3 separate regions of the Homo sapiens genome follow, and all the other regions are linked to region 3. The links come from fine-mapping of genetic effects on gene expression. A gene starts in region 3. Each other region holds a variant in brackets. All regions are shown on one strand. Distances are from middle to middle. Region 1 overlaps CUEDC1 (CUE domain containing 1). Region 2 overlaps CUEDC1 (CUE domain containing 1). Region 3 holds the start of CUEDC1 (CUE domain containing 1).

The links.
Region 1: its variant is fine-mapped to the expression of CUEDC1 in whole blood (TOPMed, PIP above 0.99).
Region 2: its variant is fine-mapped to the expression of CUEDC1 in whole blood (TOPMed, PIP above 0.99).

What each region holds. Positions count from the first base shown.
Region 1 is chr17:57,928,641-57,936,818 of GRCh38, reverse strand. The region is part of intron 1 of CUEDC1 (CUE domain containing 1); the gene reads left to right. Among named protein-coding and RNA genes, the nearest start is that of CUEDC1-AS1, 21 kb to the right of the region's middle. The variant AGG/G (reference allele first, on the strand shown) is at 3,486.
Region 2 is chr17:57,889,306-57,897,483 of GRCh38, reverse strand. The region is part of intron 1 of CUEDC1 (CUE domain containing 1); the gene reads left to right. Among named protein-coding and RNA genes, the nearest start is that of CUEDC1-AS1, 19 kb to the left of the region's middle. RefSeq lists enhancers at 4,465-4,514, 4,175-4,916. The variant C/T (reference allele first, on the strand shown) is at 3,780.
Region 3 is chr17:57,952,086-57,960,263 of GRCh38, reverse strand. It overlaps CUEDC1 (CUE domain containing 1), which reads left to right and starts at 4,852. Exons shown (of 11, transcript NM_001271875.2): 1 at 4,852-5,039. RefSeq lists a silencer at 4,928-4,997 and an enhancer at 7,286-7,787.

The DNA of each region.
Region 1 (8,178 bases), 23 kb after region 3:
GAACGTGGAGGGCTGTATGGGGGCGGGATGGGCTGGGGGTGCAGGAAGAAGCCCTGAGAAAGGATAGATAGGAGGCTAGAGGAGCAGTGCGCAGGAGAGTGGAGCTGCTGACAGAGGTGGATCTGAGCCTCACCCGGGTTGCGGCTCAGGTCTTTCTATTAATCCAGTTCTGCCAGCACAGTAGTGCCATGCTCTGTGGAAACAGCCCTGGAGCCAGCACTGCCTCCTCTCCTCCCGCTGCCCATCTGCATCCCAGCCACTGTCCCTGAGGCCTCAAGATGTGTTGAACCTTAGGGATGAGTCTGCAGAATCCTAGAAGTTGGGTGCCTCCTTCCCTGCCATCCTGGGCTGGGGGCTTGAGAGGCACCTGGTTGTGAGGGCTGGGATTAGAGTGCTTCCATTGCGAAACTGTGGAGCCTGGAGAGTTAAAAAATAAATGAAGAAGCTCTGACCACAGAGCAATTGGAGGGCTGAATTATTTAGAGCCTCTGCTCCCTCTGGCTTCTCCTGGGGAAGGGCCAAAGGAGGAATGTGGAGCCAGGGAGGGCTGAGCTTCCCTGGCCAGGCTTGTGCACTCAGGGGCCCTGGGAGTCCACACTGTCCTGCCATGTCCTCAGCCGCTTTTGTCCTTGGGTCACAAGGCCTCTGTGGTTTCCCGCAGCCCACAGGGCCTGACAGATTCAGGTTGAGGCTGAGAGGAGAGACCCTCCCTTTCCTCTTTGCCCCACTCCTGGTCTGGCCTCCCCTGATGCTGCTTGGCTCCAGGACATAGCGATAATGAATGACATAAATAAGTCATTCTCATTAGCAGCGGGTGGGTCACTGGCCCAGGAGACAGGACAGCAACAGCGGAGGTGGGTGTGGACAGGGCTGGTCAAGTCCCCTGGTCTTTCTCTCAGGAGCCCCAGAGGGAGGCTTAATCCTCTTTCAGTCTCTCCAGGATTATGTTTTCAGCTTGGGGGACTTGATGAAAATCCATGCTTCCAGCAGTCAAGGGGGCCCAGGAGAGGGGTGCCAGTAGGGTCCCCTAGGAAGGAATTGGGGTGGGACGGCCAGGCGCTGAGGCTGCTCCAGGCGGGCCTGGCCCGCCAAGGTGGACCGTGGCCATGGCAACCCCTGGCTGCACCCGGGGTAAACACAGGCTTTCAAAGGGGGCCTTGTTTTGTTCCCTGTGGAAGCCTTTCAGTTCCAGCCTGCTGGGGCTTTTCAAACCTCGGGAGGAAAGGGAGGGCAGCGGGGATGGGGCGGGCCTGGCTATGAGGAAATGTCACTCCTGGACCCCCTTCACCCCGGCCCCAGGCATATTTCCTGGAGGCCCCAGTTTCTAAAGCTCCTGCTTCTGGAGAATGAAAAGAAGAGTAAGCACCAGGAATGTGTCCAGTCTCTAGGCAACAGGGTGTGTGTGTGTGTGTTTGTGTGTGTGTGTGTGTGTGTGTGTGTCTAATGGAAGGGAGGGAAGCTTAAAAAAAAAAATCACTGTCACGCTGGTCACTCAGGATGGAAGCCTTCACTGCTCTACACTGATTTCAGCAAGCCAGCCAGGGCTGCCTGAAGCAGGTCTTTAAGGATTGCTCATCCTGTTGTCATGGAATATCAAATAAGTAAAATCTCAGAGAAAACACTAAACCATTCATTAAATGTAAGGTAAACACATTGGCAGTTTGCATTCTTGTGTATTAGTCAGTGAGTTTTAGTAAGAAAGCTGATTGCGGGCACTTGAATAGCCTTTGCTGTCTTGGGGAGCTTGGTCCCTGGATTCTATCCCCATCATTTTGTCTGTGAGCTTAACCCAAGTATAAAAATGGGGAACGGGCTGGGTGTGGTGGCTCATGCCTGTAATCCCAGCACTTTGGGAGGCTGAGGCAGGTGGATCACCTGAGCTCAGGAGTTCGAGACCAGCCTGAGCAACATGGCGAAACCCTGTCTCTATTAAAAATACAAAAATTAGCTGGGCATGGTGGGGCATGCCTGTAATCCCAGCTACTCGGGAGGCTGAGGCATGAGAATTGTTTGAATCTGGGAGGTAGAGGCTGCAGTGAGCCGAAATCACGCCACTGCATGCCAGCCTGGGCAACAGAGTGAGATTCTGTCTCAAAAAAACAATCGGGAAGGATGGCATGTCTGCCCCTCTAAGTATTCTCTATGTATCTGTTAAGGAATGAGTAGATAGCAAATGCACTTCCACTTCTTAAAAAAGATAGGGGTTCATATCCAAATATTGTCTTTCTTTCCTTTTTTTTTTTTTTTTTTTTTTTTTTTAGAGAGACAGGGTCTTGCTATATTGCCTAGGCTGGAGTACAGTGTCACAGTAATGGCTCACTATAACCTGGAATTTGTGGGCTCAAGCTATACCCCTGCCTCAGCCTCCCAAGTAGCTGAGACTACAGGTGTGCACCACCATGTCCGGCTATTTTTATTTTTATTTTTGAGACGGAGTCTTGCTCTGTTTCCCAGGCTGGAGTGCAGTGGTGTGATCTTGGCTCACTGCAACCTCCGACTCCTGGGTTCAAGCAATTCTCCTGCCTCAGCCTCCCGAGTAGCTGGGACTATAGGCACGTGTCACCACGCCTGGCTAATTTTTGTATTTTTAGTAGAGACGGGCTTTCACCATACTAGCCAGGCTGGTCTTGAATTCCTGACCTCATGATCCTCCTGCCTTGGCCTCCCAAAGTGTTGGGATTAGAGGTGTGAGCCACCGCACCTGGCCTTTATTTTTATATTGTAGAGAAGAGGTCTCACTATGTTGCCCAGCCCAGGCTGGTCTCAAACTCCTGGGCTCAAGCAGTCCTCCCACCTTGGCTTTAAATATTCTTTCTTGACACTGCATTCCTCTTTGCCTTGTCTGAAGAGGTGGTGAGCAGGATGGGGAGGGGAGCAGGAGGCAGATATGACTGCATCTGTTAACATTGGGCTGGCCTCTCTCAGCCAGGTCCCCAGATGCTCCTGGGGAGTCTTGAAGGAGGTGTAGGGAGAAAGATCCCAGCCCATAAGTCGGGCTCCAAATAGAGGTGTTCTGGGCCTGTGTTCATTTGTTCTCGAGTCACTGTCGGCCTGGGGAATGCAGCATCCGATCTGGTAGACTAGAGTTTACTGCTGAAGACCCCAGCTTCATGCCTTCCAGTCTGGCCGGGAGAGGTGGGGCTGAGGAAGTATGAGTATACCTAGCCCTGCATCCCTGCAACTCAGCAAGCTTTCCCCACAGCTGGCAGAGAGCAGTCTCGTTCCAAGGCTAGATCAGGTGGCTGGGTCCTCCTGGATTCCCATCTCTTCTGTCCCTTCCTCCCTTTGCAAATTCTCCCTTGTCATATGCTGTTGAACTGGGGGAGATGAAAGTGGCTTCTTCATCTGAAATTGGGGTGGAGGGGGGCTCATGAACTTGCCCAGCTTTTTTGATTAGTATAAAATAAGAGGCACTGCATACAGCTTTGTGGAGACAGGGAAAAAGAAGATATGGTTCCTGCTTCTGGAGAGATTTGGTCTAATGG[AGG/G]AACCGACCAACACGTTAGAACATCAAGGCTATATAAAGTTACAGACATTGTTGTTTACTTGTAGAATCTTAGACTGGCTAAGAGATCCAAAATGTCCAGAGCAGCTCTGTTCAGTGGTTCTCCCCCCTTGCTGCCCGTGAGGCTGTCTGATTCTGCTAGTGCTGGGTGGGGCCCAGGCAGGGGTAAATTTTATACATTGCCCAGGTGTTTCTATTGGGCAGCCAGGGTTGAGAACCATCTATCTAGTGCAGTGGTTCACAAGTGGGGATCATCTGGCCCCCCAGGAGACATTGGCAGTGTTACAACTGGGGGTGATGTTGCTACTGGCATTTGTGGGTAGAGGCCAGGGATGCTGCTCAACATCTTCCAATATACAGGACAGCCCCTTACTCTCTAGCCCAAATGTCAATAGTGCCTAAGGTTGAGAACCCTTGCTCTAGCGCCTGGACCAGACTTTTTTTTTTTTTTAAGACAGAGTTTTGCTCTTGTTGCCCAGGCCAGAGTGCAGTGGCACAATCTCGGCTCACTGCAACCTCTGCCTCCTGGGTTCAAGCAATTCTCCTGCCTCAGCCTCCCAAGTAGCTGGGATTACAGGAGCCTGCCACCACGCGCAGCTAATTTTTGTATTTTTAGTAGAGATGGGGTTTCACCATGTTGGCCAGGCTGATCTGGAACTCCTGACCTCAAATGATCCAACCACCTTGGCCCTCCAACAGACTTTTTTTTTTTTTTTTTTTTTTTTTTTTGAGACAGAGTCTTGCTCTGTCACCCAGGCTGGAGTGCAGTGGCGTGATCTCTGCTCACTGCAAGCTCTGCCTCCTGGGTTCACAACATTCTCCTGCCTCGGCCTCCCGAGTAACTGGGACTACAGCACCCGCTGCCATGCCCGGCTAATTTTTTTGTATTTTTAGTGGAGATGGGGTTTCACCATGTTAGCCAGGATGGTCTCGATCTCCTGACCTCGTGATTTGCCCATCTCGGCCTCCTGAAGTGCTGGGATTACAGGCGTGAGCCACCATGCCTGGCCTTTTTTTTTTTTTTTTTTTTTTGAGACACAGTGTCACTTTGTTGCCCAGGCTGGAGTGCTGTCGCGCGATCTCGGCTCACTGCAACCTCCACCTCCCGGGTTCAAGAGATTCTTGTGCCTCAGCCTTCCGAGTAGCTGGGATTACAGGCATGTACCACGACACCCAGCTATTTTGTGTGTGTGTGTGTGTTTTTAGTGGAGACGGGATTTCACCGTGTTGGCCAGGCTGGTTTCGAACTCCTAACCTCAGGCGATGTGCCTGCCTCAGCCTGCCAAAGTGCTGGGATTACAGGCATGAGCTACCACTCCCAGCCTAGAGATGCGTTTTAAGCAGAATTCTGAGAGAGGGAAGGACACATGTGGGTGAGAGGAGCAGGGTGGGGGCATCGTGTAGGGAAGCAGCACATGGCAGGGTTTGGAGGTGGGAGAATACGATTTGATTTTTGCAAAGGAGAAAGAGGCTCGTGGTTTCACGGGAGTCCTCTGCAATCCAGAGGAGGCTTTTCAGCCGGATCCTCCCTGGATTCGGGACTGTGTCTTATTGAGACACCTTTGGTTGGGACATGAAGTCCCTCTGACTGTGTTCCTTTGTGTGTTCCTAACCCTCAGGCCTTTCTTGGCCCTGTGTGAGTAAAGAGAAGGAGATCTGTCAGCCACCATCAACTTGAATACCCAGTCTCACCCTCGGACTGGCTTTCCCTGAGTCCATGCATATGTGAGAGCTTCTGCCCAGGAACTCTCTTTCCCCCCACTGCAGGAACAGCAGTGCCCTTTGACTTAGTTAATGCCCTCATGACCCCTTTTTTGCTTATTCCCCACTTCTTTAGAGGAGGGTAAGGAGAAGGCCCCAGCCTGTGCCTCTATGCCCACTTCCTGACAGTGCCCGGCATGTGGCAGTGGCTTCATCAGTGTTTTTGAATGAATGAGCGACTGCCCGGAATGAATGGGAGATCTGGGGTTTTTCCTGCGAATTGTACCTCTCCCTCTTTTTTTGTTTGTTTCTTTTTTCTTTCTTTCTTTTTTTTGAGACAGGATGTCACTTAGTCACCCAGGCTGGAGTGTGAACACAGCTCACTGCAGCCTCGACTTCCCAGGCTCAGATGATCCCACACTTCAGCCCCCAAGTAACTGAGATTATAGGTGTGTGCCACCACCTCCAGCTAATTTTTGTATTTTTTGTAGAGACCCTGTTTTGCCATGTTGCCCAGACTGGTCTCGAACTCCTGAGCTCGAGTAATCTGCCTGTCTCAGCTTCCTTAAGTGCTGGGATTACAGACAGGAGCCACCACACCCGGCCAGCTCCTTTAATAAGTCATTCAGTCCTTGTGCCAGAAATGGAACTAGGAGAGACTGAGGTTGGCACTAAGGAAGAAGGTCTTTAGTGTCCTTTAGTGTCAAGAATTTCCAGGGAGTAGAGCAGGTCATGAGAAGGTTACCTGCAGGAAATGGGGACCATTTCCCCTTTGGAGTTGGACTGTTTGTGGCTCTTTCTGGCTACAGGAGCGGTCACAGAGGGGTCATTTCTGCCCTCCTGTGTTGGCCACAGCACATCCCTTCCTCCCAGGCTTCCAGCTCTTAGATTTCTCAGCTTTCACGATAGATGTGGATATCTTCTTTTTAAGAAGTAGAAAGTGCTGTCCAAACACACGTGTGTAGTGATTCTCCCAGGCCATCACTGTTGGAGACCCAGCTTCAGTCTGGCTTGAGCAGAACCAAAGAAGTGGGCACAGTTTTCTCAAAATCCTCCCTCCTCTTGCTGTGGTTGTGGGTAGCGTTCCTCGCAATGTTTGCAAGTGCTTCTGAGCTGCTTTTCTCTGCCTTCTGTTAAACCCCTGGGACGGAGAGGGCTTTGGTTTCTGACTCAGGATAAAAGGGCCCCTGGGCATCCCAGACTCAGCCTGGAGTTGGGGAAAGGTGTTTGTAAGGGCTACCTTCTGGCCTCCTCACAGCCAGTGCTAACTGGTGAGCCTTTGCTGGAGTCCGACTTGTTTGCCAGGTGGAGTTCACAGCATCAGCCTCGTTGGCTCTGGTCTGCTTGTGCAGTTGGAGACTTGCTACCCAAAGTCAGGTCCCTAGACCAGCAGCGCTGACATCACCTGGTTAGAAATGGAGAATCACGGGCCCCACCTTGAACTTCCTGAATCTATCTACATTTTAACAAGGTCCCCAGTGGTTCGTGTGCACATTAAAGTCTGAGAAGTGGCCGGGCGCAGTGGCTCACGCCTGTAATCCCAGCACTTTGGGAGGCCGAGGCGGGTGGATCACCTGAGGGCAGGAGTTCGATACCAGCCCGACAAACATGGTGAAACCCTGTCTCTACTAAATACAAAAAAAATTTGCTGGGCGTGGTGGTGCCTGCCTGTAATCCCAGCTACTCGGGAGGCTGAGGCAGGAGAATTGCTTGAACCTGGGAGGCGGAGGTTGCAGTGAGCCAAGATCGCGCCACTGCACTCCAGCCTGGGCAACAAGAGCGAAACTCCGTCTCAAAAAAGAAAAAGAGAGAGAGAGACAGACTGAGAAGCGCTGTGCTAGAAGACTTTGGATGCTGCAGGGACAGCTGGGGACGTGCTGAACCTTGTTTGAGTGTCTTGTATGACCCGTCTTTGCAGTGCTTTAAAACAGTGCTTCTCAAAGTATCTGAGGTGAAGGACAATATGCTCTATTCCTTAGTTCAGGAACCGATGAGCATGACCAGTCTGAGCCAGTCTGAGAACATCCAGACTGGTCTATACCCTGTTCTAAGAGGGAAGTCCACAGATCACATGCTTGGATATTGTGCTAAGGTCAGATTGCTAGAAACATTTTAAAATCCTTCCTTCCTTTCTTTTTCTCTACTTATTTGGTAAGGACCCACAACTAACAGTTTGTAGGTGGTCTGTGGACATACTTTTAGTGGCCCTGGTCTAGAGCCCTGTCTTTGGGGTCAGATAGATCCAGGTTTGAATCCTGGCACTGTCACTGACTTGCGGTGTGTTCTTGGGCGGCTGTTTAACCTCTCTGGGGCTTAATTTTGTCATCTCTAAATTGGAGATGATAATGCCCCTGCCTCATAGGGCAGGGGTGAGGATTAAATGAGATAAGTTTGGGTAAAGCTTATCGTTAAGAGCCCAGCACACAGAATTTGGGCTTGATAATATTGGGTGTCAAATGTTGGCAGCAGCATCATTGTCATTGTTTGCTGTCTTGGAGCATCTGGAAATGAGGACAATGGCCTCAGTTAAGGAACACCCTTGTTTTTAGACAGACGGTGGCCTTTAAAACTGTGGCAAATTAGTATGGAATGGAAACTTTTTTTCCCCGCCTGCTAATTTCTGATAGTTTGGGGCTGCCGTAATGAATTATTTTTCTCAGTGTGGATCCAAGTAAAACCCAGGATCAGAATTGGGACAATGTTGGAACTTGTTTTTAAGTGATGGAAAGAAGTAATAAACACAGAGTAGGAAATCCTTTAATCCCACAGGACCTGACTCTTAACCCTTTCCCTCCCGCCCCCCACCCCGAGTTTATATCCTGGATACTGTCTCCCAGGCAGGCTGGGTGGACTTTCAGTGCCAGGTACCTCTAATTCTCGAATGCCAGTATATTCTCCCTTTCTGGAGAAACTCAAGTTGCCCTCTTCGCTATTTCTTGATAGCAAAGAGGTTGCGTGAAAACGTAGAGGAC
Region 2 (8,178 bases), 63 kb after region 3:
TTAGCCAGAATGGTCTGAATCTCCCTACCTTGTGATCCACCTGCCTCGGCCTCCGAAAGTGCTGGGATTACAGGCGTGAGCCACTGCGCCCGGCTAGAAAAACTTTTAATTAGAGACACTATAGGTTGGAAGTTAAGAAGATCATGGACTCCGGGGCCAGACTGTTTGGATTCCAAATCGGGCTCTGCCACTGACTATGTGACCCTGTGTAAGTTATTTAATCTCTCTGAGCCTTAGTTTTCTTTTCTGTGAAATGGATGTATTCATTGCTGTACTGTGGGGATTTGATGAGATAATGCATGCCAAGTATATAGAAAATGCATGTACCTACCAAGTGCTCATAGACGTTTGCTATAATTATTATTAAATAGTAACTTATGTCTGCTGTAGATGATATAATATGCAAAAGACATGGCCAGGCGCGGTGGCTCATGCCTGTAATCCCAGCACTTTGGGAGGCCTAGGCAGGCAGATTATCAGAGGTCAGGAGTTCGAGACCAGCCTGGCCAACATGGTGAAACCCCATCTTTACTAAAAATACAAAAAATTAGTTTGGCATGGTGGCACGCACCTGTAGTCTCAGCTACTCTGGAGGCTGAGGCAGGAGAATCACTTGAACCCGGGAGGCAGAGGTTGCATAAGCTGAGATCACATCACTGCACTCCAGCCTGGATGACAGAGAGAGACTCCATCTCAAAAAAAAAAAAAAAAAAAAAGAAAGAAGAAAAAGATATAAAAATCACTGGCAATGCTATTACTTTAATGTTCTTAGTAATCCAATAATAATGGATTATTTGCATATTTTATTTTTAAATTAATAAATGAGTATCAATCAAAATTTTAGAGGTATACAAGAATCTGTAGTGGAAAAATTTCCTTGATCTATCTCTTATGACCCAGTTCTCCCCAGGGGAAACATATATTATCAGTTTCTTGTGAATCCTTTCGGATTTCATACACACACACACACACACACACACACACACACACACACACCCCATAATGCACTATAGTAGAGTGACTATACTCATTGTTTTGTACCTTGCATTGTTCCCTTAGGTCTTGGGCTAAAGAGACATATTGAAATCCCTCATTTTTGTTTGTTATTGAATAGCATTATATAGAGAGAGGAGGATGCTGATAATGTATCATATTTTCATCAGCCTGCTACGGGTAGACTTGTAGAGTGTTTCCAGTCTTCTGCTGTTAGACTATTACAAGGAATATCCTTATGCCCATACTCAACACAGTTGCAAACATATCATCTGTAGGTAAATTTCATAGAAGTGGAATTCCTGAATCAGTAGGTAGGTGCAAAGTGTGCCTTAGTGTGGAGGGCAAGGGCAGGGGTTGGGAGTTCTGTTTGCAGGACCCTCCTCTGCCCATCCTGAGCACTCCTTTCTAATCATGGGTTCCTTGACCCGGATTACCTGGGCATGTTCGGATGCTAAATTGTGGGGCATGGATTGCTGCCTGTCCGGGGACCCAGAGGTGTCTCCTGCTGCTGTCCAGACCTCAGAACTCAGCCTACTGGGGGGGCCTTCAGCCTGACTGCCTATAGGAGAAGCCCAGGGAGGAGCAGCTGACCCCTTTTCCCAAGAAGCTGGGCCTGGTCCAGTATGAGCTCATGCCTGGAGCCAACCCAGCTTCCTTGGCCCTGCACCTGAGTTACCAGTGGCCCCCTTCCTCCAGCGTGGGCCCTTTGACTTGGTAGCATGAACGCGCGTGTTCCTGCCAGCCCAGTGGGGTCCCCTAGAGCTGTGGCACCTGGGAGGGGAGGGGCAGGGGGACAGTAGCCCCCTTAATCCGCTGAGGTTTGATCTCCTCCCAGGCACCTGAGTCGAATATCTTGGCTGAGCTGGTGGCTTTTGTTTATGGAGTGAGGGACTGTTGTGGAAATAGTCCCCAGCCAGCCCAGGTTGTGGTGGAAAACAGTTGGTTGCTCAGGCAACTTGACAACTTCAGTAGGATGGGAAAAAGGTTTTGTGAGGAAACTGCCACTGTTTTGTCTTCTCCTTTGCTTCCTGGACATAAGCACCATCCCTTATACCTCCAGTGGCACCCAGGCACCCCCAGCCTCTCCAGGGGCAACCCTGTCCTTTAGTATTCAATTTAACTCACAGTTATTGAGTTCTTGCTGTGTGCCCAGCTCTGTGCTAGGCTCTAGGGAATATGGAATGGTGATCAAGCCCAATGGATACAGAGTGTTAAATCTGGAATCGGACCTTCTGGGTTCAAATTTCAGCTTGGCCACTTAGCTGTGTGACCTTGAACAAGTTACTCAACCCTTCTACGCCTCATTTTTCTACTATGAAGTGGAAATAGCAGTAGTAATATGCACCTTGTAGAGCTGTAGGGAGGATGAAGAGAGTTAACATGCAATAAGGCACTTTGAGTAGTGGCTAGCATATAAGGAAGCAGGCAATAAGTGTTATCTATTCTCATTATGACTATTATGACCATTATCTTGCTAAGATGAACCAAACAAATGACATGTTTCTCTGCTGAGAAGCCTCATCTTGGATCTTTTTCACTAGAAGGCAGAATTGGCTTCTTGATGGTGCCTTTTGTGGCAGCCACACCTGATATTTGGGCCTCAGGAGCAGAGATGAATGATGATGTCCTTAGGACTGAGGCTCTGGGACCAATTTGTCCACAAGGGACCTCATTCACCTTCTCTGAAACCTCTTGCCCTCGTCCCTGCCCCACATCTCCCATTGGCTACAGACTTGGCCACAAGTGTTGAGGCAGGAGAGAGAAAAATTAGAAAAGAAAAGGTCTTTTTTGAATCGTATTTTTTCTTTTGATTTTTTTTTGAGACAGAGTCTCACTCTTGCTCAGGCTGGAGTACAGTGGTGTGATCTTGGCTCACTGCAACCTCTGCCTCCTGGTTCAAGTGATTCAAGTGCCTCAGCCTCCCAAGTAGCTGGGATTACAGGCATGCGCCACCACACTGGGCTAATTTTTGTATTTTCAGTAGAGACAGGGTTTTACCATGTTGGCCAGGCTGGTCTCAAACTCCTGACCTCAGATGATCTGCCCGCCTCGGCCTCCCAAAGTGCTGGGATTACAGGCATGAGCCACCAAGCCTGGCCTTTCTTCTGATTTTTAAAGATTAAAAACAATTTTTAAAGGAATGCCCCACCCTTACAGATCTAAGTGATAGGGGTGGGGGTGGCCAAGGCATCATGCCATGCCCAGCCTGCACAGCTCATGGAGTAGCCTTTGGAAGGCAGGGGCTGCCCCCAGCCTCACCCCTGCCGGCAGCTCTGCTGTGTGGGCATGGAAACCAGGTGTCCTGCTTCTCTGGGTGGCAGTGGGGCTTCTTCCTGGCAAAGAGGTTTAGGAGTCCTTTTATCAAATCCTCATGGTTTGGTTTTGTTTTGTTTTTGAGACGGAGTCTTGCTCTGTCACCCAGGCTGGAGTGCAGTGGTACGATCTTGGCTCACTGCAACCTCCACCTCCCAGGTTCAAGCAATTCTCTGCCTCAGCCTCCCGAGTAGCTGGAATTACAGGCACCCACCACCATGCCTGGCTAATTTTTGTATTTTTAGTAGAGACGGTGTTTCACCATTTTGGCCAGGCTGGTCTTGAACTCCTGATCTCGTGATCCACCTGCCTTGGCCTCCCAAAGTGCTGGGATTACAGGCGTGAGCCACTGTGCCCTGCCAAATTCTCGTGTTTTACAGATGTAGAAGAGATGAGTGGTCCAGAGAAGTACCCAAGGTCACACAGCAGCGCATGACAGCATTGTCTGTCTCTCCCCTGCTCCTCCTCCT[C/T]CTCCCCTAAGGTCCAGTGGCCTCTTTTCTCCAATGGCTGTGCCCGAGGGTCCTCTTTGCCCTTCCTGGCTGCCTGGGGGTGGGCACAGGTGTGGCTGCCCAGCAGCTCTGGGGGCCTCGGGAATGAGGCTGGCTTTGTTGCAGCCCCGGCAGCTGTGGCCATTTGGGTCGAGTTTCCATTAAGCCTTTTCCGAGCCTTGGGCAGGAGCAGGAGGCTCAGCGTTTAAAGGTCACCCGGCTTTTGAAGCTGCAGCGACATTAATAGCTTGGGAAGAAAACAAGCCTTTGCAGGGGCAGGAGGACAAGGCGTCTCTGTCAGGGCTGCCTGAAACACACACACACACACACACACACATACCCTGAGAGCCTCTGTCTCTTGCTCTCCTCTTCCCTTCCTTTCACCCCCTTTTGGGGCCTCTTCAGCTCTGAAGCCAAGAAGCTCAGGCAGATTTCCCTGCACCCCACCCGCTCTGAGGTGACAATTGGCCGAGAATGCAGCTGCCCCAGCCCAGCAGCCTCTGCCATTACACACTTGAGGTTTCCGCAGGACTCAACCATGGTTACACAAGCCTCCCAGGGTCATATGACCTCATTCTGGCCCCACTGGCTTTTGCAGCCTGGATTCCCAATGAGACAGAGTGAGCCTGGCCTGCGTGTCCTCATACGGGAAATGAGAGCGCTGGCAAGTGGCTTGTCTTGCATGCCAGTTCTAATCACTTGGTCGTGGCTTGCACAGAGGCGGTGTTGCAAAGGGTTCTGAGGTTGTGTGTGTTCTGTAGGACAGTAATACCTGGGTGGATTAGTGATGTCTGCCAAGGATGAGGGCTAGAAGGTGGTGGCACATGTGCCAAAGATTTCCTGCCTAGGATTAAATGATTTGACAACTCTGCGGGTCTTGGGTGCTAAGACCCCTGAGGCAACTGGGTGGTTCTTCTCCCTTTTAATCAGGCCAAGGGTGGGGGTGGGGCACATTCTTGGGTTCTGAGAGAAAAGCCACTCTGGCCCTTTCCCTGGGAGCTGCCAGGGCCTGAGCTCTGGGACACCACCTAGTGGCCTGGCTTGGCAGCGCCACTGGGCTGTGCCAGATCTTAGGCAAGAAGCAAATCCCTCTGCAGGCAGGCATCACGGCAGTCACAGATGGACGTAGGGTCTGCTCCTTGGTGATTTTCAGAGGAGGGAGCCTGGGGTGCACAGAGACAGAGCTGGTCTGAGGAGTCTTACCCTCCTTCCAGAAGAGTGGCCTCTGGGTGGGACACAGGAAGGTGCTGGCAATTGGGACCTGTGGCTTCCTGTTCTAACTCCCACCTTTCAGGGTTGGGCCCTGGTCCTCCTGGGGGGCAGAATGGAAGGTCAAGTCAGATCTAGGAGGGGGTTAGCCTCCTGCCCCCTGGTGCTGGCACTGGCTTGGAAAGGGGCAGCCTGCCATCAGCCTTGTGTCCACGTCACTGGGCTGCCTTGGCCTCAGACCCCTTGTCTGTGAAGTGAGATAATAACGCATTCCCTTATATATCTTCTAGGTTTGTTGTGAGGAGTAAATGAGTGTGTAGGGGAGAGAGGGCTTTGGAAACTGAAAAGGCCCCCTCCCATCATTGCTGTGAGCCGGAGGAGGAAGGAAAGGGAGGGAAATCCACAGTTACAGCACTCCTCCATCTTTCCTTCCCTTCTTTACTCATTCGCCTAATAAATGTCTATTGACCATGCCAGGCACTGATTCGGGCACTGGGGATACCACAGTGAGTATAGCAAAGCCCCTGCCTTCATGGAGCTTACATTCTAGTGGAGAAGATATCAGTGACAAATGTATAATATTCAAGGTGGTCTGTTTCATGAAGAAGACAGGGAAGCCTAAAGGGTTAGGAACACTGGGATGTTGGGGGGTGGACTTGCCACTCTGTTCCCCCTCAAGGTGATGGTTGAGTAGGGACCAGAAGGAAGGGAGCCATGCAGATATGTGGGAGCAGAACGTAGCAGTTGGTGGAAAAAGTAAGTTCAGAGGCCCCTGGGTGGGAGTGTGCTTGGCTCGTTGGTGGACTAGCAAGGATCCAGGTGGCCACAGAGAGTTAGGCTCTGTCTGTATGTGTGCGTGCACATATGACAGCGAGGTGACATGGGCAGGACCATGTGGGTTGGCCACGGTAAAGCTCTGGGTATTCTGGGGACATGGGAGCCATTGGGAGGCATGGAGCAGAGGAAGGGCATGACCCCTGTGATGAGGGGTCTCTAGGCCAACACGTGGGAGGCAGGGAGCTAGGGAGGGTATGGTAGCTGTGGAGGTGGTAAGGAGTGGCCAGATTCAGAAATCATTTGGAAGACGGGGAAGACAGGCTTCGCCATAGATTGGACATAGAGTATAAGAGAATGAGAGCACTCCAAGATGACTCCAAAGGTTTTGGCTGGAGCCAGGGAGAGTTGCCATTAACAAAGATGGAGAAGGCAGGGGAGAAGCAGGTTGGGGTCGGAGGGAATCACAGGTCGGATGGATCCATGTTGTTGGAGCTGCTGTTGGATGTCCAAGTGGAGGCAGCAAGAAGGCTGTATGAGTGTGGAGTTGAGGGGAGTGCCCATGAGAGGTTGGAGCACATGAGAGCCAGTGTTCAGTATGCAGATGGTATTCCAAGCCATGGGGCTGGATGAGATTGCTCAGGGAGTGAGTCTAGCCCGGGAAAAGGTCCCAGGCCTGTGCCCCAAGCCACAGCAGCCTGTGTCACTGGTGCTTATTATACGCCAGGTACCCATGTACGTTCTATTAATACTCCTCCCCTATGTCTACAAATGAGGGAGCTGAGGTGCAAAGAAATGAAACAATTTCCCCAAGTCACACAGCCTTACTAAGGTCACAAAGTGCACCCAGGACTCTGGCTCCCCAGCTCTCATAGCCCCCATGCAGACCCTCGCTGGCCCTGATGTACCAGGCAGGAGGCTGGCTGGGATGACCTTGGGCAAGGCCAGATGAACTGCACTGGGGCAGCTTGCCCACCTCCGTGGGCCAAGCCGGGAGTGACTCAGGCCTTGGCTGCGTGCTTATGCTAGGAGAGGAGGTTGGCTGTTTGCCGCCCCTGCCGGGCCTGGATTCCTTCACAGGGGAGGTGGAGGGCCACTGTGATCCTGGCTTCCTGGGACCTGGAGGAGGACAGGTGTGGGGTTTCTGCTTCCCAGTCTCCAGGTCATCCACAACCATGAGTTCAGGGGAGCCTTTGAGTCAGCCTCCGAGAGGTCTGATGAGCCCAGTGGGTTGTTTGCTTCCTTTTTCAGAAGCCAGTCAGGGGTTATGTCCCTCTGTTTCCCTGCCAGTGCTCAGCAGCTGGGGTTCTGAGAGGTGGTATGGTTTCTCCAAGGTCACAGAGCCAGCTCTGGAGCAGAGCCAAGAGACCTTGCTACCATGCTGTCTGGGTCATGTTTCCTGTGCTGAAATGTCCTCTGGGCTGTGCCCAGTCTCCTGAGCCTGGGGCACACATGGCTGAATTTCTTATGCTCCTTGGCTCATAGCCCTGTGAGCCTTACTTGGCATTTTTTGCCTCTTAGGAAGTGGGTTCCTATTCTGGCCTCTCCACATACTGGCTGTGTGACTTTGGGCAATTTACCCAACCTCTCTGAAATGGTTCCCACAGCTATGAAATGGAGACAGCAACACCTGTCTCATGGAGTTGTAATAAAGATTAAATGTGAAAGCATGTGGCACAGGCTCGTAAACCTGTCGCCTACTTGCTTTAATCCTTTCGTGTATTTTAAACTGCTTTTCATTTGAGCAGTGCTAGTTGCAAAAGGCAGCCTGGCATGGACGGCTCTGACCCTGCTCCCAGGCACACCACAGCCATGGCCTCAGACTCTGCCCTGAGCTTAGCCAGGGGGAGAGAGGGACAGTGCTCTGAGAATTGGGGGCCTCTATAGTCCACCTGGTTCTAACTATAGGCAGCCTGGGAGTCTCTGAGACCTTATAGAGTCCTGTGGAAATGGTACTTCTGGTAATCAAAATGCTTCCCATTACTGCTTCCTTGTGTTTCCCATTACTGTTTCTGAGCCACTCTCCTCATCCACAGAACCACCCTTTGATAGAAAAGTCTAGACTTTGCCTTTACTCGCTGTGTGTCCTTGGGCAACTCCCTCCTAGACTTGGGTCTCAGGCTCTTCACCTGTAATGTGAGGCAGGGTGTGGGGCTGGGCTGGAGTTGTCAGTCCTTTACATTTTGTGGTCCCCACAAGGATGCTTTCAAAGCTTTGCACTTGGGCCAAATGGAAGCGGCTGCTTGAGCTGCTGTGTCTCCAGTTGCCCAGGCCAGCCCAGCCTCCCCTGGGGCCATGAGGATCAATATTTCCTTACAGAGGGCTGAAAGAATTCCAGGGATTGACATCCAGGTGCTGGGGAAGACCCCCCTAGAATCTCCCTACCCCATCCCCCCTG
Region 3 (8,178 bases):
CTTAAGCTGTCTTTGGTAGTCCTAGGAGGAGGAGTGGGTCTCACGGTGGCAGGGACAATGTGGTTGGTCGCAGAGCCGCAACTGTCTGCTCTCCTTATCAACCATTCATGCCCTGGCATTTGCCCTGGGCTGGGGGACCTTCAGAAGGGAAATGTCCTGTTTTCCCCACGGTCCGATCAGAGCTCACCATTTCCAAGCCTGAGCCCAGTGGCTCTCCATCAGCCTCATTCTCACAGTAGATAATGCCATATGCTCCAGCGATCTGAGCTTCATACAGCCACAGACTTAGCAAAAGGCTTCCATCACCTTCACATTCAGTCTGTGGAAACAGCAAGTGTTCTTGGCTGGTTTTGTTTGTTTGTTTGAGATTGAGTCTCGCTCTGTCACCCAGGCTGGAGTCAAGCACGATCTTGGCTCACTGCAACCTCCACCTCCCAGGTTCAAGCAATTTTCCTGCCTCAGCCTCCCAGGTAGCTGGGACCACAGGCGCCTGCCACCACGCCTGGCTAATTTTTGTATTTTTAGTAGAAATAGGGTTTTACCATGTTGGCCAGGCTGGTCTCGAACTCCTGGCCTCAAGTGATTCACCCGCCTCGGCCTCCCAAAGTGCTGGGACTACAGATGTGAGCCATGGTGACTGCCCTGTTCTTGGCTGGTTCTAGCCCGGGAGTGGGTGGGTGGCATGAGGACAGAAAATGGGAAGAGCTGGAATGGAAGTTAAGGGCAGCCTGGGAAGGGCCTCTCTCAGGAGTTTAAATTTCATTCTCCAAGCAATGGGAAGTCATCCACCTTGTTCAGCAGTGCAGAGACATCACCGGTTTGTACATTAGAAAAGTAACTGCTGGCACTGAAAAGGATGGATTGAAAGGCAGGGCCCTGGCAGCAGGGCCTGAGCCAGGGCAGAGGAGAGGGGGCAGGTTCCAGAGAAACTCAGAAGCAGAAAGCCCTGAGTTTACTGAGGGGGTTGAATGTACGAGGGGAGGAAGGCAGCATGTAACATCTGCAGCTTGAGCGAATGGGAGGTGCTGCTTATCCAGGACAGAGAATTCTTGCAAAGGATGTGGAGATGATGGGCTCCAGGCTCCCCGCACTGAAGGTGCAGTGGCTGTGGGACAGCTTGTCCAATGGCAGTAACACATGCCAGTCAGGGGCTTGAGAGAGGGAGTGGGGTGCTCGGACAGGTCATCAGCACACTCCACTAGGTGCAGAGGGGGTAATGTTATTAATAAAACTTGGCTGGGCACGGTGGTCCACGCCTGTAATCCCAGCACTTTGGGAGGCTGAGGTGGGCAGATCACCTGAGGTTGGGAGTTTGAGACCAGCCTGACCAACATGGAGAAACCCCGTCTCTACGAAAAATACAAAATTAGCTGGGCGTGGTGGTGCATGCCTGTAATCCCAGCTACTCGGGAGGCTGAGGCAGGAGAATCGCTTGAATCTGGGAGGTGGAGGTTGCAGTGAGCCAAGATCATGCCATTGCACTCCAGCCTGGGCAACAAGAGCGAAACTACGTCTCAAAAACAAAACAAAACAAAACAAACAGACAACAACCAAAAAAAAAAAAAAAAAAAATAGCCGGGTGCGGTGGCTCATGCCTGTAATTCCAGCACTTTGGTAGGCCATGGCGGGCGGAGGTCGGGAGTTTGAGACCAGCCTGGCCAACATGGTAAAACCTCATTTCTACTAAAAATAAAAAAATTAGCTGGGCATGGTGGCGTGCACCTGTAGTTCTAGCTACTCGGGAGGCTGAGTTGGAAGAATCGCTTGAACCTGGGAGGCAGAGGTTGCCGTGAGCCGAGATCGCGCCACTGTACTCCAAGCTGTACAACAAGAGCGAGACTCTGTCTTAAAAAAAAAAAAAAAAAAAAAAATATATATATATATATATATATATATATATATATATGCAGTCTGCAAGTGGAGCCATGAGGGGTTGGTACCTGCCCCACTCTATTCCCCCTGTGAGAACATCTGGAAAGAGGGGTTGGTTAGAAAGTTAGAGGACTCAGCCTTGGAGAAACCCCTGGGGCAGGCAGAGCTGAAGAAATGAGGGAATGGATAGAAAGACGCAGAGGCTAGGAAGCCATGAGGGTGGGAATGGTTTCAAGGAGGCGTTAGCAACATCCAGGGCTCCAATGGAGTGAAGGAATGGGATAGGGAGGAGGCCCATGGGTTGAAACAATGAGGAGCCTAAGGTTGCCTCCCTTGGAAAGGCATCTTCCCCTAGAAAGATGCCGGTGCCTCCCTGTAAAAATCACCTTCCCCTAGGATGAAGGGGAAGAAAGTCAGATTGTAGGAAGTTGAGGATTGAATAGGGCTTGAAGAAGCAGAGAGTGGGTCTGGTTGCTTCTTAGGGGAGGCCTACTGATGAATGCAGAAGAGAGAAACAGGGCAATGACTTGAGGGCAGGGCAGGGTTGGGGCCAGGTTCCCTTAGAAGGGGGTATCCTGAAGTGTTTGTAGTTTTGAAGCAGAGGGGAGGAGAAAGAAGAACTAACAGAGTTTCCTGAAGCACATAGGAGGTTGGGCTGGAAAGCAAAAGGGACATCTCTGGAAGAGCAGAGACAATAGGGCCTGAACCAGGCAGAAGTGGAGGAGTGAGGCGGTGAGAGAAGGAGAAATGAACAGGATCTGATAACCAGTGGAGGGCCAGGGAAGCTGCACAGGAGACAGAGGCTTCCAGCCTCTGAGCCAGAGGTGGATTCAGGAGAGTAGGAGGAGGTGGCTTAGGTAGGGAAGCGGTCTCAGTCGCCTTTAGCCTCCTTGAGTTTTAGGTGTCTGGGAGACTCACAGGTGGCCCTCTGTAGGCGGCTGGTGTGAGGGGCTGGAGCCCTGGGGGCTCAGAGGCAGTGGTGGGAGTGGGTGGAGGTGTCTGGGGGTGGGGAAGTTGTGAGAGGCAGGGAAGGGGTCTGAGAAAAAGCTTCCAGAAGGACAGACCCAAAAGGAGGAGTATGTTAGCAAAGCCCAAGAAAAGTGTGCTTCAAGGAAGAGTGTCCATTAGAGCAACTGGTTTTATTAATGACTATAATAATAATGTATTTAAAAATTTTACTAGCCGGGCGTGGTGGCACCCACCTGTAACCCCAGCTACTCAGGAGGCGTAGGCAGGAGAATTGCTTGAACCTGGGAGGCGGAGGTTGCAGTGAGTTGAGATCGTGCCACTGCACTCCAGCCTGGGTGACAGAGCGAAACTCCGTCTCAAAAAAAAAAAAATTATGAGCAATCCATAGGCGAGTGCAAATGGAAATCTCCAGGTTTGCAGATGCATTTTTCTGCTCCTGAAATGCCAAGGTGACAGGAATGAACTGCAGAGGGATCTTGCAAGTAAGCAGGAAAGTGACAAATGAACTGCACTATGGGTAAGTGTAAGGTAATACACTTGATAACATAATCTAGACTATATTGGCCAGGCGGACAAATCCTGAGCTCTCAGTTACAACCTGGGAAAGGAGCCAGGAGTCAGTATAGAGGCATGGGTCTGTCCCTTCGGATTAAGAATCTTTAACCTGGGGCCTGAAGACCATCTTCTGGGATTTCAAGCACCCTGCCTCCCCCGGAAATTGAATGCACCAGGGAGTGAAGTGTGGGGAGAGAGGAGCAGGAGAGAGGAGATCCTCAGAGGGGTTTGGAAACCCAGTCCTGGAGTTCCGTTCAACATGCTAACCTAACGTTGGGCCTCCCCGAGGAGGGTGTGGTTCTGAGGTTTCTCCCCCTCCCAGTTTCCCACCTTGCTGAAGAAACTTGCCCTTGACATGCAAATGATGGAAACACATTGGTGTCTGGGGCACTTTGGTTTGTGGTTTTTACCATCAGCTGTCTCTGAGGCTGAGCGTGTCGATCTGTCTCAGCAAGGCTAGCAAATTGCAAGCGCTCAGAGGAGGGGAGAGGGGGGCTATTCCTGGGGTTCTGGGCCCAGATGGGCAAATGGGTCTGTAAGGCAGACTTTTCCAGGAGGAGGGTGCAGACCCTTTGCAAGTTGTTTGGGGACAGAGCTTAGTTTGCATCTGGCCTTCTTCACCCTCCTCAGATCCCCTAGGTAGCAGGGTGCTTGGTGGTCACCACCTGACCTAGGCTACCTACTCCCAAATTGGAGTCTGAAATGAAAGCACGTGGGAAAAGTATAGCAAAGGTCAGTTTCCCATTTATTAAACAAGTTCTTCCGTGGAAAATCTTCCCAGGGCTCAGCAGCCCTTGAAGTGATCAGGGATGCTGGGGAGGTTGGGGGAGGAGAAAATGGGAGATGGCAGGTGGTATCTGTCGGTGTGGACGAGTGATAGCTTTGATTTGCTCCCCCTTCCCACCATCTCCTGTGTCCTCAGCATTTGATTTGGTTTCCTTTCCGGGGCCCTAATTCCAGGGAGGTGCCCCTCCTCCACACCTGTGTCCCAAGCCCCAGCTGTGCGTCCTCACCCTGGGTTCCTGGCACTGACCTGGAACCTGTCGGGCAGCCCTGCTCTTAGCTCCCCGCGGAGTCTCGGAGGTCTCAGGTCTCCTCCGCCCACCCTCTCCGCAGCTGGGAGGGGCAGGATGCCCCGCACCCCGCTCTGCGCGGGAGGTCGAGGCACCCCGCTCACGCCCTCCTGCCCGCAAGCTAGGGAGTCACTGCGGCCGGGGAGGGAGGTACACGGAGGGCATTTTTCCAGCCTTCACTGGGTGCTCCCCTCTCCACCCCCGGCAACCATGTAGGTTTCCGGACCCCCAGGTCCGCTTCCCTCCTCTCTGGAAAGGGGTCGGCCATAGGGAAAGGGCCCGGGGGCGCCGCAGCCGGGCCCCCGCCCCGCCCCGCCCGCAGCCCCGCTCCTCCCCGCGCGGCCCCACTTGTGGCCCTGCCGGCAGCCGCGCAGGGACAGCTGCATTTCTCGCCGCCCGCCGCTAGGAAGCCGGCCTCGCCTCACTTTCTCCGCCTCCCCGCGCCCCAGCCGCGCCGCCGCCGCCGAGCCTGGCCCCGCCGCCACCGCTGCGGATTGCAGCCCCTCCCCCGCCCGGCCCGCGGCCCGGCCCCTGCGGCCCGCGCGGAGCGGACGCGCGTGGCGCTGCCCGGTAAGACCCCCGCGCTCCCGCGGCTCCCGCCCGGCCCCGGGCGCGGTCCTCGCCGGCGCCCCGCGCGCAATCCCGGCCGCGGCCCCGGCCCAGCGGCCCCACCTTCTCGGGACCCGTTGCCCAGGCGCCGCCGGGAGGGCCGGGCCGTCGCGAGTTTGATTCCCGGGGCTGTCGGCGCGGCTCCCCGGGAGCTCCGCGTGCGGCAGGTCCCCGCCCGCCCTTCCTTCCCGAGCCCCCACCTCATCCCGGGCCCCGGGCGCGGGGGGCGTGCGGGCATCTGGGGGGCCGGGAGCGGGGCGCGCGATTAGACCGGGGGGCGCGGGCCAGCGCCGCAGGGAAGGGAGACGAGGCCTCCCGGAGCCGGCTTCGCCCGAGTCCCCTCTCCCGCCGCTCCCCCTTTTGTGTGGGCGCCCCTCCCCGCAGTGCCCGGGCCTGGGGGCGCAGGCTGGGCGGCGACGGCAGGCGGGGGCGCCTGCTGGGAGCCGAGCGCCTTTCAGGGGGAGGGGAGCTTCGCTTCCTGCCCCCCGCCGATGTCACAGGTCGGCTCAGCCTTTTTTGGTCCCTCCCGGTCCCCTGGGAGCTGTATCTCCCGTCAGCTCGGCCAGGGAAAGTTGGGAATGCGCTGTCCCCGCCCCTGCTCGCCCGCCCCGCCGGCTCCTGTGCCCCAGGCTCTGAGCTCCAAGGGGGGCTGGTGTCAGCGTTTATTCATTCCTCCCTCTTCCTTTTCTCGGTCGCGTGGTCGCCTTACACCCAGCACTGCCCTGCCCATTTCTTTTCCCCTTAAAAAAAGTTTTAGCTCTAAGAAACGTACACTGAAATTAAATTCCTGAGACGGAATGTGTTTTAAGGGGAGGGAGGGTTTAGATTTTCCTTTTTTTGGTGGAGTAGTGGAGTAGAAGATGAGGGGACTCCCTGGGAGTTTAGAAACAAGATGCCCTGGAGGCGATAGAGGATACAAGAAGACCATCCACCGTGCTCCCCACCTGATCCGCAGTCAGCGTCTTGTAGCGAGAGGAATGAGCCTTCCCTGGGTGATCCCGCAGCACCTGAGCCACCTGGCCCAGGAGAAAGGACTCAGGGAGATGTACTGGGCCTTTCACCCCTTTTCTTTATAGCCAGCTGTGCCTGAAGGAGGTGAGGGACCCCAGGAATTCTCTCACGGAGGAAGTCATCTCACCATGTGGTTGGGCCCCTGCTGGATCAAGTGTGAAGCTGGGTCCTCTCTGTTGTTGGGGGTCAGTGCCACTGGTACCTCAGTTTGAATATGGTGCCATCTCTGGGATGGAGAGGTGCTGCTGGGAGAAACCTGGCTCGGGTCTCCAGGAAGCTGGAGCGTGTGCAGCAGGGCTGGGTGTGAAACCCGCTGTCCACTTTCTGCAGCTGGAAGGGCCAGGACAAGGGAAACAGGATACTGCTACCGACCTGGGCACATCCTTGAATAGAAGAGAGACCCTGGACAGCGAGGATGGCCCAGGGATGTTGATATGACTAGGGCTGTATCCCCAGCTCCTGGGCCAGGCCAACTAGGGCCAGAGGTTGGAGTCATGGGCCCCTTTGAGAATCTGGTGAAAGCTCTAACTCCTCTCCTTCCAAAATGCATGTGTGTAGGGAGACACCTGTATTCAACACCAGACGGTTAATATACCCCCTTGGAACCAGGACCTCCATTGAGACCTCTGCCCTAGAGTTACTGGTCTGACCTGGGCCATCAGAACAGTTGTCACCTTTTTGGCTGGTCAGTGAATAATCCCAGGGTTCAAAGAGCAGACTGCTTCTAAGGTCTTTTCTCATGACCTCCCTATGCAACTTTGGGCTTGTGGCCATGGAGACCTGGAGTGTCTGGACAGATCCCAGCTCCCTACAGCTAGCTAGAGGATGGGGGCAGATGAGGTGGCCCTTTTCCAGGGGCTCATTTTGCTGTCTGTGTGGTGGGAAGGCCCTGGGCACTGGACTAGGCCCACTGGTCTATTGAATTAGAGGTAAATAAAGGGATTTGGGTGGAGGTGGATATTCTGGTGTTTCAGCTGGGTGTGAGATCCAGGCCTTTAAGAGCTCCAGCTTGTTCTTGGGGAAATGGGGTTGAGGTGCTTTAGTAGAGAGTGTTAAGTGTGAAAGACGACTCTTAAGGAGGTCTTGGGGCAGAATTGTCCAAGGCTATGATCTGGGTGTTGTCGGTTCCTTAGATCCCTTTGGACTCTTGAAGGCAAGTGGGGGCCAGAGGGCTGCTGTCACTATCCCCAGTGCAGCCCCAGGCCAGAGGAGGCCTGGCCTGCCTTTCCTTTCTTGGCTCACTGGGTCCTGGGCTGCTGCATAGGTGTTTGTGGCATCTACACTTGCTAGGGATCTGGAAGAGCTTTAGGACGATCTGCCATTTGTGACTTCTCTACCTTGGGACTGAGAAGACTTCCTTAGGCTCAAGTCCCCCACAGAGAGCTGTAGGGGATTTTTCTTTGTTTAACTAGAGAGCACAGTGTTTGGCATATGGCAGCACTCACACTGGTATTCTTCCTTTAGAGCTTCCTACATTTGCTCTGGTAATAAGCAGCAGAGGCAGGAGTATTCTAGAGCCTTGGGGCACAGGAAGCTGGGTGTCTGACAGGGGTCACCTCTGACTATCCAAGGTGAGCTGGAGGAGGTGGTGCTTCTGTGTTGCTGGCTCTTGCACTTACAGGAAGCAAGAGCTATAAAGGGCATTGGAGGCCGGATGCGGTGGCTCATGCCTGTAATCCCACCACTCTGGGAGGCCGAGGGGGGTGGATCACCTGAGGTCAGGAGTTTAAGACTAGTCTGGCCAACATGGTGAAACCCCGTCTCTACTAAAAATACAAAAATTTGCTGGGTGTGGTGGCGTGTGCCTGTAATCCCAGCTACTCAGGAGACTGAGGCAGGAGAATTGCTTGAACCTGGGAGGTGGAGGTTGCAGTGAGCCGAAGTTGTGCCATTGCACTCCAACCTGGATGACAAGAGCAAAACTTTGTCTCCAAAAAAAAAACATAAATAAATAAATAAAATAAAATAAAATAAAATAAAATGAAGGGCATTGGAGACCCTAAAGCGCTGTGGTCCAGTGGTCCTTGACTTGGGAATTGAAAGTGTCTTGGTGGCATGCAAAGTCCTTGTTGCAGTGACTGAGGATTCA